Regions from separate parts of the Homo sapiens genome. Here region 2 is linked to region 1. A link means that fine-mapping ties the variant in region 1 to the expression of a gene that starts in the linked region. Tissue or cell type: whole blood. Region 1 holds a variant in brackets; the other region holds the start of a gene. All regions are shown on one strand. Distances are from middle to middle.

What was found. PIP is the estimated chance that this variant, and not a neighbour inherited with it, causes the effect.
Region 2: it holds the start of RAB3IP, and the variant in region 1 is fine-mapped to the expression of RAB3IP in whole blood (INTERVAL, PIP above 0.99). The same link has a PIP of 0.9 or more in neutrophils.

What each region holds. Positions count from the first base shown.
Region 1 is chr12:69,754,070-69,762,258 of GRCh38, reverse strand. RAB3IP (RAB3A interacting protein) reads right to left here. Exons shown (of 11, transcript NM_022456.5): 2 at 6,600-6,875; 3 at 5,596-5,854. The coding sequence starts at 6,850. Among named protein-coding and RNA genes, the nearest start is that of RAB3IP, 19 kb to the right of the region's middle. RefSeq lists an enhancer at 2,145-2,736. The variant AT/T (reference allele first, on the strand shown) is at 3,267.
Region 2 is chr12:69,734,658-69,742,846 of GRCh38, reverse strand. RAB3IP (RAB3A interacting protein) reads right to left here and starts at 3,987. Exons shown (of 11, transcript NM_022456.5): 1 at 3,816-3,987. It overlaps LOC101928002 (a long non-coding RNA gene), which reads left to right and starts at 4,297. Exons shown (of 4, transcript NR_110072.2): 1 at 4,297-4,569. RefSeq lists a silencer at 3,410-4,239.

The DNA of each region.
Region 1 (8,189 bases):
CTCTTCAGAAATATCCTATGGAAGGCCAAACAGCTAAATGACTACATCATAATCTCTGGCATCCCTGCACCTGAAAATAAGTGACCACATGATTGGTCCCCCTACACACACAGTATGGATTTGTTGCTGGGAAGTGGTTGTCCATCCAGGGATTACATTACCCAGCCCACCATACATCTAGGTATTGGCATGAAAGGTTCACACCAATAGAATGTGAGCAAAAGTGATGTGTATCATATCTAAGCCAAGGTTTTTTAGAAGAAGCTGTACCTTCTCTAAGCTGTCTTTCCCTTTTGTCTCATTGGTTAGATACAAATAACAATAAAACCCTAAGAAATTACAAAGGCCCCAAACAGAAGAGAAACAGATCTCTGAATTATTTCACAGAGAACTGCCTACCAACTATGAACATCTGCTTCAGAGTGTTAAATGAATAAAAATGAACTTCTATTAGGTAAAGTCACGAAAATTTGGGGGTTACTTATAAGCATCACCCTAATATATCAGGCATGTGTGTATACAAACACTTGTATAACCGCATATACATGTATATATTCATTTAATCAACAAAATGTATTGAAAACCCATTATATGCTCAAGATATAATCATGAGCACAAACATATGCAATCCTTATCCTCATGAATCTCAGAAGTACTGAAGCATGTGTGTATAAATGCAGGTTTTTCTATGTGGATTACTTGAATGGGGTAGACAATGAAGTAATATAAATGAGTAAGTAGAACTTTCACTTCCAATTAAGATAGAGGAACAGGGATTAGATTTACCACCCATCTGACACAACTAAAACTCTGAAAAAATATATGGATCAACAATTTGAAGCATTTGATATTAGGCAATAAAAGACAGTGATCCCCTAGAAATGAAAAACAAAATGTGCACCCCAGATCTGCCCCAGCTTATTATCTGAAGAGATGAAATAATTAGAAACAAAACATTTATTAAACTGCATCCCAACATATTAAGCAGAGCAAGCAAAGTATAAAAAAGATCCAAATCAAACTTTCAGAGATGAAAACTACAATGTCTAGTTTAAAAACATACTGTATGGGATTAACAGATTAGATATTTCAGAAGAAAAGAGTAGTGACTTTGAAGACATAGCAATAGAAACTACCCACAATGAAACACAGTGAGGAAAAAAAGATTTTTAAATGAAAGACTGTAACACCAGCAAGCTGTGAGATAAGTTTAAGCAGTCTAATGTACATGTAATAGGAATCCAGAGGAAAGGAGAGAGAGAGGAAGAATGGAAAACTTTTTGAAGATATAAAGGCCAAAATTTCCCAAATTTTATGAAAACTAACAACCTACAGCTTCAAGAAGCTCAATAAATCCCAAACATAAGAAAGCTGAAGAAACTACACCAAAGCAAATCACAATCACATTGCTTATGCCAGTGAGAGAGGACTCTCATAAGCAGCCAGAGAGAAAAGACCTAATACGCAGAGGAACAAAGGTAAGGGTAACAGCAGACTTCTTGTGAGAAACAATGTACATGCTTGAAAACACTGAAGCAACATCTTTACAGTAACAAAAAAAAAAAAATTATCAATCTTAAATTCTTTACTCAGTGAAAATATCTTTCAAAAACCAAAAATGAACACAGACATACAAAAGCTAAAAGAATTTATCACCATCAAACATGCACAACAAAAATGTAAAAGGATGTCCTTCAAGCCAAAGGAAAAATGATACGAGTTGGAAATCTGGATCCACATGAAGAAATGAATACCAAAGGAATGAACACACAGAGCAAGTCCCCAAACGGATCCTGAGCAAGAGGAGAGTTGGAGGCTCTCCCTCTCCCTCTCCCTCTCCCCACAGTCTCCCTCTCCCTCTCCCCACGGTCTCCCTCGCCCTCTCTTTCCACGGTCTCCCTCTGATGCCGAGCCAAAGCTGGACTGTACTGCTGCCATCTTGGCTCACTGCAACCTCCCTGCCTGATTCTCCTGCCTCAGCCTGCCGAGTGCCTGCTATTGCAGGCGCACGCCGCCACGCCTGACTGGTTTTCGTATTTTTTTGGTGGAGACGGGGTTTCGCTGTGTTGGCCGGGCTGGTCTCCAGCTCCTAACCGTGAGTGATCCGCCAGCCTCGGCCTCCCGAGGTGCCGGGATTGCAGACGGAGTCTCATTCACTCAGGGCTCAATGTTGCCCAGGCTGGAGTGCAGTGGCATGATCTCGGCTAGCTACAACCTCCACCTCCCAGCCGCCTGCCTTGGCCTCCCAAAGTGACGAGATTGCAGCCTCTGCCCGGCCGCCACCCCGTCTGGGAAGTGAGGAGCGTCTCTGCCCGGCCACCCATCGTCTGAGATGTGGGGAGCGCCTCTGTCCAGCCGCGACCCCGTCTGGGAGGTGAGGAGCGTCTCTGCCCGGCAGCCCCGTCTGAGAAGTGAGGAGCCCCTCCGCCCGGCAGCCGCCCCGTCCGGGAGGGAGGTGGGAGGTCAGCCCCCGCCCGGCCAGCCGCCCCATCCGGGAGGGAGGTGGGGGGTCAGCCCCCGCCCGGCAGCCGCCCCGTCCGGGAGGGAGGTGGGGGGTCAGCCCCTGCCCGGCCAGCCGCCCCGTCCGGGAGGTGGGGGTTCAGCCCCCGCCCAGCCAGCCGCCCCGTCCAGGAGGGAGGTGGGGGGCGCCTCCGCCCGGCCGCCGCCCCGTCCGGGAGGTCGGAGGCGCCTCTGCCCGGCCGCCCCTTCTGGGAAGTGAGGAGCTCCTCTGCCCGGCCACCACCCCGTCTGGGAGGTGTACCCAACAGCTCATTGAGAACGGGCCATGATGACGATGGCGGTTTTGTGGAATAGAAAAGGGGGAAAGGTGGGGAAAAGATAGAGAAATCAGATTGTTGCTGTGTCTGTGTAGAAAGAAGTAGACATAGGAGACTTCATTTTGTTCTGTACTAAGAAAAATTCTTCTGCCTTGGGATGCTGTTGATCTATGACCTTACCCCCAACCCTGTGCTCTCTGAAACATGTGCTGTGTCCACTCAGGGTTAAATGGATTAAGGGCGGTGCAAGATGTGCTTTGTTAAACAGATGCTTGAAGGCAGCACGCTCGTTAAGAGTCATCACCACTCCCTAATCTCAAGTACCCAGGGACACAAACACTGCGGAAGGCCGCAGGGTCCTCTGCCTAGGAAAACCAGAGACCTTTGTTCACTTGTTTATCTGCTGACCTTCCCTCCACTATTGTCCTATGACCCTGCCAAATCCCCCTCTGCGAGAAACACCCAAGAATGATCAATTAAAAAAAAAAA[AT/T]CTTAGAAGTGACCAGAAGGAGGAAGAAAACCAATTATCTACAAAGGAATGACAACTACATTGACAGCTGGCTTCTCATCAACAATGATAGATGCCGGAAGACAAAGACGTAAAATTATGAAAGTGTTTGTTGAGAAAAAAAAAAACAACCATCAACCTAGAATTGTATGCCCCGTTAAACTATCATTCAAAAATAAAAGTAAAACTTGTAAAAAAAAAAAAAAAAAAAAAAAAAGGAATGAACACACAGATGCCCATGTAGCTAACATTTCTGATGTTTATCTATGTAAAGATTCTTTGTTATTATTTAAGTCTCTTTAAAAGATAATACTGTTTAATGCAAAACAATAGTGTTTTGTGGGGTTTAAACACACAAAGAAGTGAAACATACAACAATTATTGCACAAAAACTAGGAGGGGAAAAATAAAAGTATACTTTTGTAAGGTTTGTACACCAGATGTAAAGTAATATATCACCGGAAGGTAGAGAGTGATAAGTTAAATATGTCTACTATAAACGCTAAAGCAACAAAGATAAAAGCCACAGGAAGATGAAATTGTTTTAAAAATACAGAATTAATTCAAAAGAAAGGATACAAAAGGGAAAAAGGAACAAATGAGACAAACAGAAAACAAACAGTAAGATGGTAAATTTAAACCAAACTATACCATTATCCATTAAATGTAAATGGTCTAAACACCAATTAAAAGACAGAGATAATTACAAAGGATCAAAAGAACAAGACCTAACTGTACACTATCTATAAGAAACTCGTATTAAATAGGAAGACACAGTTAACCAAGTAAGTAAAAAGTATAGAAAATGGCCTCTCTTAAGATAAGACTAAAGAAAATGGCTGTTGACATAGTTTGATTCACAAGTTGTCACAATTCAGGAAGTATTTTTATATTCAAGAGTCCTTTTCAAGCCTTGAGATCTAAGTAAATATTAATACTAACTTATACTCTTCATAAAAGTCACCACATATGTGTTTACACATCACCATTTCAATTATCCAAACAGTATCTCTAAATACAGCATATTAGAGATTTCAAAGGAAATTCTCAAGTGAGCTAAGAAATTAGCAATCTGTTCTGATCAATAACCATGTGTTCTCAAAGATGGATACATATACTCAAAATTTTACCTCTATATAATGTGTGATTTTAATAAAATACTATCTATTAAGACAACAAAGTCTGAGCCAGATGACAGAAACAAAATGCAACCACATCTCACCACATCCTTTTCCTTTGGGAAGGAACTGGGGATTAAAAAAATGAATATACTACGCTCATGAGAGACAAGTATGCTAGGGAAAGAGTGGGAATACATTTGTGAAATGTCATGGTAGGTTGGATATTACACCTATAAATGTTTGCCCTACCTTCTCAATTTTCTACATGTGAATTGGTATTTCACCTAGGTTGTCAGGTTTATATATGCAGTTTTTCATATCATTCCATTATACTTTTGATATGAGTCTCCAGTGACATCCTGCATTTCACTCCTGCTACTGATAAATCTGTCTTCTTTTTGTCAGTCTTGCTAGAGGTTTGCAATTTTATTAATCTTCTTAAAGAACCAACATTTTGTCTCACTCATTTTCTCTATTTTTTCTGTTATCAATTTCATTGATTTTTGCTCTTTATTATTTCCTTCCTTCTACTTGCTCTGGTTTTATTTTGCTCTTCTTTTTACAGATTCTTAAAGTGGGAGCTTAGATTGTCCATTTGAGACTTTTCCTGTTTTCTGATGTATGCATTTCATTCTATAAATTTTCCTCTGAAATTTAACTGCAGACTCAGAAAAAGAATAAGATATGGCCACAAGTTTGGAAATAAATAGCAGAAACTTTTAAAATGACCAAATGGGAAACACAACAATTTACCAAGAAAATTCTCCAAGGTAAGATACAGAAAATATTCAAACTCAGCTTAAACTCAAAACAAAATGACTTAGACTGAGTGACTTCAAGTAAATAACCATTTAGTCAGCCATGTAGTAAGAAGGAAAAACCCTGCATGTGGAATATAGCCCACTCAATCTGCATTACAGATAATACGAGACAGGGAGCAGGCAATGCAGTGGGGCACAGAAGAGTTAACAGAGCCACATTTTTCCAGTTAGTAGTCTTAGAGGAACTTCTTTACTACCCAACCAGTTTCACGGATTCCTAAATGCTGCCTAACAGGAGCTGAGGCTGGGCATATGTGACGGATAAATGTACAACCATCATGATTTCATTTCTGCAGGTTGCCCCACCCCATGGAGAAATACTAATTTCTAATATAATATATGGAAGAATAAAATATCTTCTTTCTTACCCTCTGAGCTTTTGCGAGTTCTTCTTTTAATCGTTCATAGCCCTTTTCTCTAACTTCCAAAACAGATGGGCTTCGTAAACGAGACAGACTATCAGTACTCAACCCAAAAATATCATCACTGCCATCGCAAGCCTCTGTTATAGTAGCACCCTGTAAAAACTCTCTCTCTGCATTATAGTTGTCCTTTCTTGTAGTTAATTTAGTTAATCCAGCTGTGACTCCAGAGGTAGAGCAAGGGGCTGGGTCTGTAACATGAAAGCTGTAAAGGAGAGAGACATTTTTCAGAAAATATCAGCATATGCTCCAATAGAACTGGCTTAAACACACAGCTCTAGAACTGTACTACCCAATTTGGTAGCTTCTATATTTAAATAAATAGTATGTCCTCAGTCATATCAGCCACATTTCAAGTGCTCAATAGCTACATGTGGTTAATACCTATCATTCATATTAGATAGCACAGAAATAGAACATTTTCATCAACACAGAAAGTTCTACAGGACAGTGCTACTCAAGAGCAGGGGTTAACAAACTATAGCCTACAGGCTAAACCAAGCCTTCCACCCGTTTTTATAAGGTATCAATGAGCCAAGTATAGTTTTTACAATTTCAAATAGTTGAAAAGAAATCTTTAAAAGAATATTTTGTGACACATGAAAATTAAATGAAATTCAAAATTCTGCATCCATATATGAAGTTTTATTGGAACACAACCACTCTCATTCATTTACATACTGTCTATGGCTGCTTTCAAACTCTAAAGGCAGAGTTGAATAGTTGCAACAGAGACTGCATGGCTTGCAAAGCCTAAAATATTTACTATCTGGTCCTTCACATATAAAGTTTGTCAACCCTGTTCTAGAACATTATCAGGTCATGTATTTCTTTACCTAGGCACACTTAAGTTATTCAAATTTTCTAAAAATAGTAAAACTTAAAATATAGTAACTAAGCAAACTGTCCATTTTAAAAAAAATCAAATAAGTGATTTACTTATTTCCTACCTGATACTAGATATTTCCGCACAATTTAAACGTCTGGGGGATGAATACACGGGTTGTGTAGGAAGTTCAGAAACATCTAATGCATTTGCCTGGATAGGTACAGAGGATAAAGCTGAAGGGTGTGGCCGGTAGATGACACTTGGTGAGGTAGTCTGCTCTTGAGTTCCTGATTCATACACACCAAGAAGGTCCGGAGAAGTAGGTGAAGCAAGGTTTACTTCATGGAAGCCTTCCAAGGGATCATTAGCCATAGCAAAAGCCTCATCATAAGATAACCTATGTTAAAACAAAAAGCAGATACTTATTTTTAGATAATAACATTTAAAACTAAATTAAAATGCATAAATTATAAAATGTGTTTAACAGTCCATTGTAAATTATAAGCTTACAATAAAAGAGGCTTTTTTTAAAAAACCACAATCACATGGTGGTATATGCCTGTAGTACCAGCTACTCGGGAAGATGAGGTGGGAGGATTGCTTGAGCCCAAATGCAGGTTGCAGTGAGCCGTGATCACAACCCTGCACTCCAGCCTGGGTGACAGGGCAAGACCTTCTCCCACTCAAAAAACAAAAACAAAAACAAAACACCACAATCACTTAACATTTACTAAGCGATCTCACAGTATAACTACTACAAAAGGCAAACAATCTGATTTAGAAGAAACCTGAAAGTGATAAGCAATGCTGTTAAAGTGAGAATAATCAATTAGTATGAGGAATGAATAAAAATTGGCTTAATTTTTAAAAATATTTTAAAATTATTAAATGTTCATATTAAAATAAATTATCTCAGTATACTATTTAAATATGAAAATACTAAAAACAAAATCTAACAGTATTATGCAATCTTAGACTCAATAACAATTATATTATGCTGTGAAACTCTTAAAACAATTTTTTTAACAGAGAACATTGTATTTATCATGTACAACATGTTTGAAGGCACATACACATTGTGAAATAGCTAACTAGCTAATTAACGAATGCGTTACCTCATGCCATTATTTTGTTATGAGAAAACTCAACATTTACTCTCTGCATTTTTCAAGAATTTACAATATATCGTCAGGAACTACAGTCATCCTGCTGTACCATAGATCTCTTGAATTTATATTTAACTTTCTGATTATACATGACCTTGGTTAGAGTAAGTAGAAAGGCGGTAAAGACACACACATACTCTCTCATACCTGTCACCCAGATTATGAAATTGTTAATATTTTTGAGTCATTTAAGAATGTTTCAGACATGATGCCCACTTAATATCTCAATGTATACATATACACAGTGTGTGTGTGTGTGTGTGTGTGTGTGCCCGTGTATCTGTGTATGTGTGTGTGTATCCTAAGTACAAGGACATTCTATCTAACCACAAAATCATCATCAAAATCTGGAAGTTAACATTGATTAAAATTACCATCTAATCAACAGGCCCCATTCAAATTTCACTAATTGTTCCAATAATATCCTTTATATGTACAGGATCCAATCCTGGATAATGTGTTTCATTTCTATAAGCCTTAAATTTCTCCTCTGATGAGATTAGAATGGGGATAACACTAGCCCCTCCCTTGTCCTGGTTGCTGTG
Region 2 (8,189 bases), 19 kb after region 1:
GACTATGTACGATGTAAGCTTATAAAACTACCTCATTTAGTGGTAAGTTGAAAAGGAAAGCAGAAGGGAAAATAGAGATAGCAAGTTAATGCTCCCAGTTGTATAAATATCTTCCTCTTCCTTCCTTTGTCCCTTCATTTCTCAATGTTCATTTCAATTTCTACTGCTAGAGCAGCTTCAAAACATCCTAACATTCTTCAACTGATCATCCATCACCAAACACAGCACAGTACTTACCTGGCCCGATGTTAAAGCTATAAAATGAGGTAAGCCCTACTCTCGAAGCACTTGTAGACTAGAGGAAGAGACCACCTTGCCAATAAACATGTTTCTAGGGCCCTAGAAACAATTACAAATACAACACAAATATCAAAGTTCATAAATACCAAAAAAGAGGTACTCAGTATTATAAAAGCATAAAATTTTTAAAAAGAGTACCATCTGGTACAACTAAGGATAGTAGCATAAAAAAGGAGAAACAAGCTAGAAAGCAGTTTACAAAAGCTCAGATATTTTGTTTTTAGGATATCAAATGCGTAGTAACCAATTTACTATCCTTTGATGAACTGCATCTTAATCAGAATTATATCGGAAAAAAGTTTAGTGTGAAAAAGCGTACTCCCTTGGAATATCTTCAAAGCTTTCCCTCATTACCTCAATGCACAAATATCTCTACCCACTATCCATCTGTCCTTCCTCTCCACTACTCAACTATCCTAGCACTTTGTCTTAGTTGACATTCATTAAAATATGTAAAGTGCGTTCTACATTTTGAAGAACTTATAAAAGATATGGGAATGATTATAAGGCCCTACCTTCCATATTCCTTAAGAACAGTTTCCTTTAACCCCTACTGTGACTTGCAGAGTAGATGCTCAATGAGTATTTGATTTAAAAAAATCTCTGGTGACACAATGAGAATTACATATTACATTAACATTACGTATCTCATAAAAGCTAAATTACAAAGTTCTTCAGCATTATAAGCTACACATAAAGAAGTGATAATGTAGTGATTATGAGCAAACAATTCTTTAGCATTACCACTTATACATGAAGAAATGACAGAGTGTAGTGGTTAAGAGCACAGACATGGAAGACAAACTGTCTGACATCTAATCTAGACCTGTCACTTAATTAACTATGTGACGTTGAGCAAACTACATAAGGTCTCAGGGTCTCAATTTTCTCAACTACAAAATAGGGATAAAGTATTATCTCCTCGCTCACTCTGAGAGTAAATGAGTATAAAGCTTACACCAGGACTTCGCTTGATAAGCACTAGACTTAAAAGTAACTGTAGTAGCAATGCTGGTATCACCGTCTTCAGAAAACTTGGATATTTTTAAACCAGAAATACAAATGGTAACACTTGTCATCTGTGTGCCTCCTTATAGTTACAAAGCTCTTTAATAGAAGGTGCAGACCAGGAATGTAAGAAACAAAAGCACTACGTTCCATTTTGGGCAGTCGGATACAGTTTTTAATACCGGCTCTGTCACTGGCCAGCTGTACGACCACCTACAACTAAGTAACCATAGACAAATTATCGCAACTTTCTAAGCCTCCATTTCCTGACTTGTAAAATTTGATAAACCACCTATATCCCGGGAATGTCCAGAGGACTGAGGAGTCAAGGTATCGAAAACAAGCACACACAGTGCCTTGCACACAATCAAGCTCACACTGGTTCCTTCTCCCCTTCCCCACATCTCTAATGGAGTATGTTATTAAATCCTCATCTTACCATTATGAAGTTCATATTAGGTTGAAACATAAAAAACAGCAGAATATTAGCAATTTCAACCTAATAGTATTTCCACTGACAAATGGAGAAAATAAGCTCAAACAGGTTAAATGTTTTACTCAAGGTTTTATGCACAGTAAGTGATGGAGCTGAACATTAAATAATTTTTCATTCAGCCAGCTCACTAATTTGTTCACTGACTCCTGTTGAGGAGGAAAAAAGTATAGTAACTACTATAATGCATATAAAACTACTGTAATCTACAAAGTATTTTTTCGTGCCATATTTAAAAAATGAGGGGGTGAAACATTTCTAAGAACCTTTCCATTTTAAAAATTATTTGTAGAGGATGTGTGTGTTGGGGGAGGATGAGAGTTTAGACAAAATCAAAGGTAAAGAATATTAAAGGAAACATATGGATAACTGCACTAATTCAAAAAGTACAATAGGATCTATTCAGAAATCCCACAAAGCAGCTAAACATTAAATGGCCATCCTGGTGAAAGATTACAAGTATTCAGTACCACAGATGAGTTGTTTACCAAACACAGAAGGAAGAGTTGTATCAAACACTTTGGTTCACAAAGGTATACATTAATATGTAACATTACTGTAATGGAAAAAAATGCAATGGCTTTTCATTTAATAGTTAAAAAATGGACTACTTAATTGTATAACTGTTTATTTCTATAAATTCCACAAGGGCTTTAGGATTAGATCACATAAGCCGCATCTGGAATACACTGTCTGTCCAAACATGAAAAGTCCTATCAAAATGCACAGTACTAGTAAATAAATAACAAATGATAACAGAACAAGGCCCCATAAAACTGGTGAAATATTTAACAGTATCAAATATTTACTACGATTGGTCTACAACCCTATTCTGCCTCTTTTCTCCTTGATTTGTCATTCAGCACTGGAAGAAAAAAAAACCTTCATGAACAACAAAATGAGAAAAAGGATAATGAACAAGAACTGGGTCTTTCAACTGATTTACAATGGAACAGTTTTGTTGTAATCCTCTTATGGGCCCCTCCTCCAATTATGCAATCATTCCACTGCAAGAGATTACAAGGCTTTTAACCCGACACTGAACGGAAGGAGTTGGGGTGAAACAGGAGAGTGTATAACAGGTAGCCTCCGAACAGGCAACATTTCCATGAAACTAAATTGCCTCTCAGTAATCAGTACTAACTAACTCAGCGCTCGTGTCTTTCAAGACCTTACCCTTTCATCTTTTTTAATCCCATAACAACCGGCAACTCTTCACATGCTGCGACTTCCACCCAGCATCATCACTTCTGGAGCCAGTAAGCTCGCGCTTCCTGGGCGGTCGGGGCGAGTTGTCAACGCTGGGAGGGCAGAGCCATGCAATCCCACCCGTGCAGTTCGTCTCAACTCCCCCGAACACAAGTCTGGCGGCACGGAGCTGCCTACTTGGGCGCGACTCCGGGCGCCTGCCCGGAATTTCCCACCAGGTTTCACCGAAACCTCCCGAGGGTGACCTCTACGCCTCAGCACGGTGCCTCGCGCGTAGTTTCCTAAGACTGGGACACGAAACCACCCCAGGTCCACAGCCCTGCCGCGCGGCGTCCGGTGTTGTGAGCTGCTTCCGACTTGTTCGGGAACTCTCTCTTCATCCTCTTCGCGACCGCGGCCCTCCGCTCCCGGCCGCGCCCGCCCGCCGCCAGGTAACCCGCTGGACTCGGGCTCCCTGCCCCGGGCGCGCGGGACCGCGCAGTTAATGTGTAACGCGCCCGTGCCCGGGGGAGGAGCCGCCGCCCGACGCCCACCAGCAGCCCAGGGGGCGGCCGGCTGACCCGGGTCGCCAAAGTCCCCCCCACACGCCGCCCCCAAGGGCCCGGAGCCCAAGTGCCCAGGCGGAGAGCGAGCTCACCGGGCCTGGGCATCCCCCCGAACCCCCGCGTGCCGCGCCCTGCACGGCGCCAGCACCTGCACCTGCCGCGGCCGCCCCTCCTGGCCGACTCGCCAGAGGCGGGCGCGCGGGCGCCGAGGGGGGCGGTGCTCTACGCTCCGGGCCTCTCCCTCCCGCGGCCGCACTCACCTGAAGAACCCACCGCGGCCGCTGCCGGCGCTCAGGGGCGCTCACAGAGCCGCAGAGAGCGCGTCCCGAAGCAGCGAGAAACGGAGGAGGACGGCGAGCCCTTTCCGCTACACTCCACGGCGGCGGGCTCACTACGCCGGCAGCCGCCGAGGGAACGCGGGACTGCGCCTGCGCCGGAAGCGGGGCCGGGGGCCGGGAGCCGGGAGCGGCCGGTCCTCACGGAGGGAGGGCGGGGTAGGGGGGTGTGGCCGGCAGGGGCGGGGCGAGCCCGGCATGGGGCCTGGGGGCGGACGCGCTTCCGCGCCCCCTGGCGCCAGGCGGGGCTCGTCGCAGGTGTCACGGCCCTGGCCCGAGGTTCCTCCGCGGGCGGTTTCCCTGGGAACCAGCGCGAGCCGGAGCTGCGCTCTGTTTCGTCGGGCCCGCGCTCTGTTTCGTCGGGCCCGCGCTCTGTTTCGCCGGGCCCGAGAGGCGGCCTCAGGTTAACTTCAAGCATGTTGGGCTCTCCAGGAGGGAGAAGAGGCACCTTTGCCGTGGGTTGAGGACTCCTAGAACCAACCTGAGACTCCGCGGCCATATACACCTTACGACGTGTGTGTGTGTGGCGGGAGATGGGAGGGGAGGAATCCTGTAGAACCCAGATCCCATCATTCCAGCAACTGCCAGAGCGTTCGAGAATGTCATGTCTGTACCTGTCTTCTCTCATCTTTTGTGCCAACTGTTTTATCAAACTTCTACCCCACTTTAGGTCTTCCAGGTAGGAAAAATACAGAAAGAGCCAAGATCCCAAAAATCAAAAAAAAATAATAATAATAGAGGTAGTCATAGTATGTGTCTCTATGTTTAGCAAAAGAGAAACGTGCATTTGTGTGATACACTTATTGAATAGGACCATCATTCTGGGTATTAATCTCATCTATTAGAGGCAGTAAAGAAAAGTAGACTATATGTATGGTTGTTGGAGTCAGAATTACTGGGCTTGAGCCTGCCACCTGCTAGCTGAGTGACCTTAGGCAAATGAATCTCTCTAGCCCCAATTTTCTCATCAGTGAATGAGTATACAGAACCTGCCTCACTGAGTCATTAAGAGTTTAAATGGCTTAATTCATGTAAACACTTTGCGTACTTCATGACACAGAGTGCCTAATAAATATTAGCTATTGTTATTATACCATTATAACTATTATCATGCATCTGTAATCCAGAAACCTAGAAAGCCAGTGTTTCTTATTTTATACCCCATCGCCAATATATCACCAAGTCTTATTCATCCTAATTTCTAAATAATTCTTAAATCTATCTTATCTGATATTCATTGCCACTAGAAATGACCTTTCTCATTAATGGATTCCTATTCTCCCTTACACCTCATAGCTGGTCATTTATTCATCAGACATTTTATTGCACTCCATCTGTGTGCCTCCTGTTAGACATAGGGACAGAGAAACCATTACAAAGTCCCCACCATCCACGGACTCAAACATATATAGGGAGACAAGTATGTCAATAGTAGCTACGTGAAATGAATAAATTAAATATACAGCAAACCACTTAGGCTCCCCAGTCTTGCCGTACTCACATACAACCCTGTATTTCCATATGCTGTTTATTTTTATGTCTTGATCTCCTACCTTTTCCTTGCCTTGCTAATTATTTGTTATTCATTATTTAGCCTAGACATCAATTCCACTGTGAACCCTTCCCTATTGTTGGCCACTCAGCCCTATCCCAGCCACTCCAGTATGGGCTAAGTGCCCCTACCAGGGCTTCCATAACACCGTATCTCTTTGTAACACTTATCACATAGAGTTATAATTGTATCTGTATTTCTCCATTTTCCTGGACTGCGAGCTTCTTGAGAACAGGCACAAGGTCTGACATGCAGTAGGACTGACTCAGTAAATGCAGAATGAGTGAATGGCATGCATGCAGAGTGCAGTCTTGGTATGTGAATGTTTAGAGGACAAGTCCTATGATATATTCTACATAAGACCTAAGACATCATGATCTATAGGAAATAGTAAGCAGTAACCATATATGCCTGAGTCCTGCGTTGGTCCATTTACAAATCACCTACCATCCATGAGGCTTTTTGAAATATACTGAAAGATGTTCCTCTTGAATACTTAACCTGTTAGCGCTGTTTGAGAAGAGTGATATAGATTGTTACCTATAATAATACTTCAGTGTTCTTGCAGCACAGAGACCAAGATACATTACAGAATATTAGACACTCAGAATCTCAGCCTACAAAGTATGTAAAGGGCTGTGAGCATCTTAAGTTTGATAGCTTACCCATATATAAAAAGGACAGCTATTTCACAAAATTTAAAAATGTGAAAGATTTGGATGGGCACGGTGGCTCATGCCTGTAATCCCAGCACTTTGGGAAGCCAAGGTGGGCAGATCCTTGAGGTAAGGAGTTCGAGACCAGCCTGGCCAACGTGGTGAATCCCCATCTCTACCAAAAAAAAAAAAAAAAATCAGCTGTGCATGGTGGCACACACCTGTAGTCCCAGCTACTTGGAAGGCTGAGGTGGGAGAATCACTTGAACCCGGGAGGCGGAGGCTGCAGTGAGCCGAAATCACGCCACTGCACTCCAGCCTGGGCGACAGAGTGACACCCTGTCTCAAAAGAACAAAACAAAAGGCCGCACGCGGTGGCTCACACCTGTAATCACAGCACTTTGGGAGGCTGAGGTGGGCAGATCACCTGAGGTCAGGAGTTCAAGACTAGTCTGGCCAACATGGTGAAACCCCATTTCTACCAAAAACATAAAAAATTAGTCGGGCATGGTGGCTGGCACCTGTAATCCCAGCTACTCGGGAGGCTGAGGCAGGAGAATCACTTGAACCTTGAATCACTTGAACTCGGGAGGCAGAGGTTGCAGTGAGCCGATCGCGCCATTGCACTCCAGCCTGGGTGACAAGAGTGAGACTCCATCTCAAAAAAAAAAAAAAAAGAGTGAAAGATTTTATAGTGTGCTCAAGGTTGCCTTTTTCTCTTTATTTTTTTCTCTTTATTTTTTAAAAATGTAAATTATACAATTAGTGTCAAATATAACGTATAAAATAATATTGCTTTTTTTTTATCTTAAGACTTTCTCATTTATACCTTGGGCCAGAAAAAAAGCAGATGAGTGCAAATATATAGACATTGTAAATTGAACAAACCATTCTAAGGTTGTTACCCTTAGTTATAACTTTTATTACTTGTTTGCCTCTGTTTTGTTTTCAGAGTTAAGAAAATGTATTTTCATGGTATTTTCCAGTTGCAAACTGACTTCATGTTAATGATTACATGAGTCTTGTACAAAAAACAATTTGATGCAGGTGGAAAGGTAGTTATTCTTCATTTTTGTGGATGGGGAGCTTAGGCCACCAGAGTTAGGGCCCTGGTGTTTGGAATGCAGGTTAATATCTTATAAACGAATGAAGTGAAAACATATTGAACTTTTGTGTCCAGTAGTATGGCAGACTAGAGGCTCTGGCTGATTCTCAAACCCAAAGCAATATATATAAATATATATAAAACATCTTATCAAGCATATCAAAGAGTTGGCAAGAATATAAGAAACCCTGAAGGGCAAAAACTAGGTGTAAGTGAGAACTCAGACTGGTAAATAGTAACAATGCAAAAATGAAATGGAAAAAAAAGACAGTTATGGGAAAAATGTACCAAAAGTAATTAATCTATCATTTCCTTGTCTGCCAAAATAGTCAGTGAGTGCCAGTGCTTGTGTTCTCATAAAAACTGACTTTTGCAACTCCTGTAAAAAAGCAGAGCAATCTCAAAAGTGTCTGTCATGATATTAATTATGGACAATCCTGTATTTCAGGCCCCCTTTCTGATGTTGGAATAAGTGACTGGGAAAAATTGGAAAGCTGAGAGAAAGGGTTTAAGAGAGAGCTTAGACTCTAAAAAGTATGATTCCCCCCTTCAAAAGAATCACTTTAACAAGCTACATATATATAACAAAACGTTTTGAGAATTGACTTTAGATCCAGTTTATCACACACACAAATTGCCATCCATCAAACAAATATTTATTTGTAGCTTCTCTGTGACAACTGTGTAAATAATTTTCAGTAAGAAGGAAGAGAAGGAGAGATGAGACACAGTGAGAGGGCTTCCTGGCCTCCCCTTACTTTTTAATTCCAGCTATCGCTCTATTACTGAGGCTTCCTTCATCCCTTCCCATAGGTTCTGTGAGAAATCCTTCTGTCCTTAAAATAATTCTCCCTTTTTTGCTTTACATAGCTTTGAATGATTCCTATTACTGCCACCAGAAAATTATCCTAAACTATATATTTTCATACAGGGATTGATTTCTGTAGCAGTTAAAAAGCTCAAAGTAACAGTAGCTTAAAGAAAAT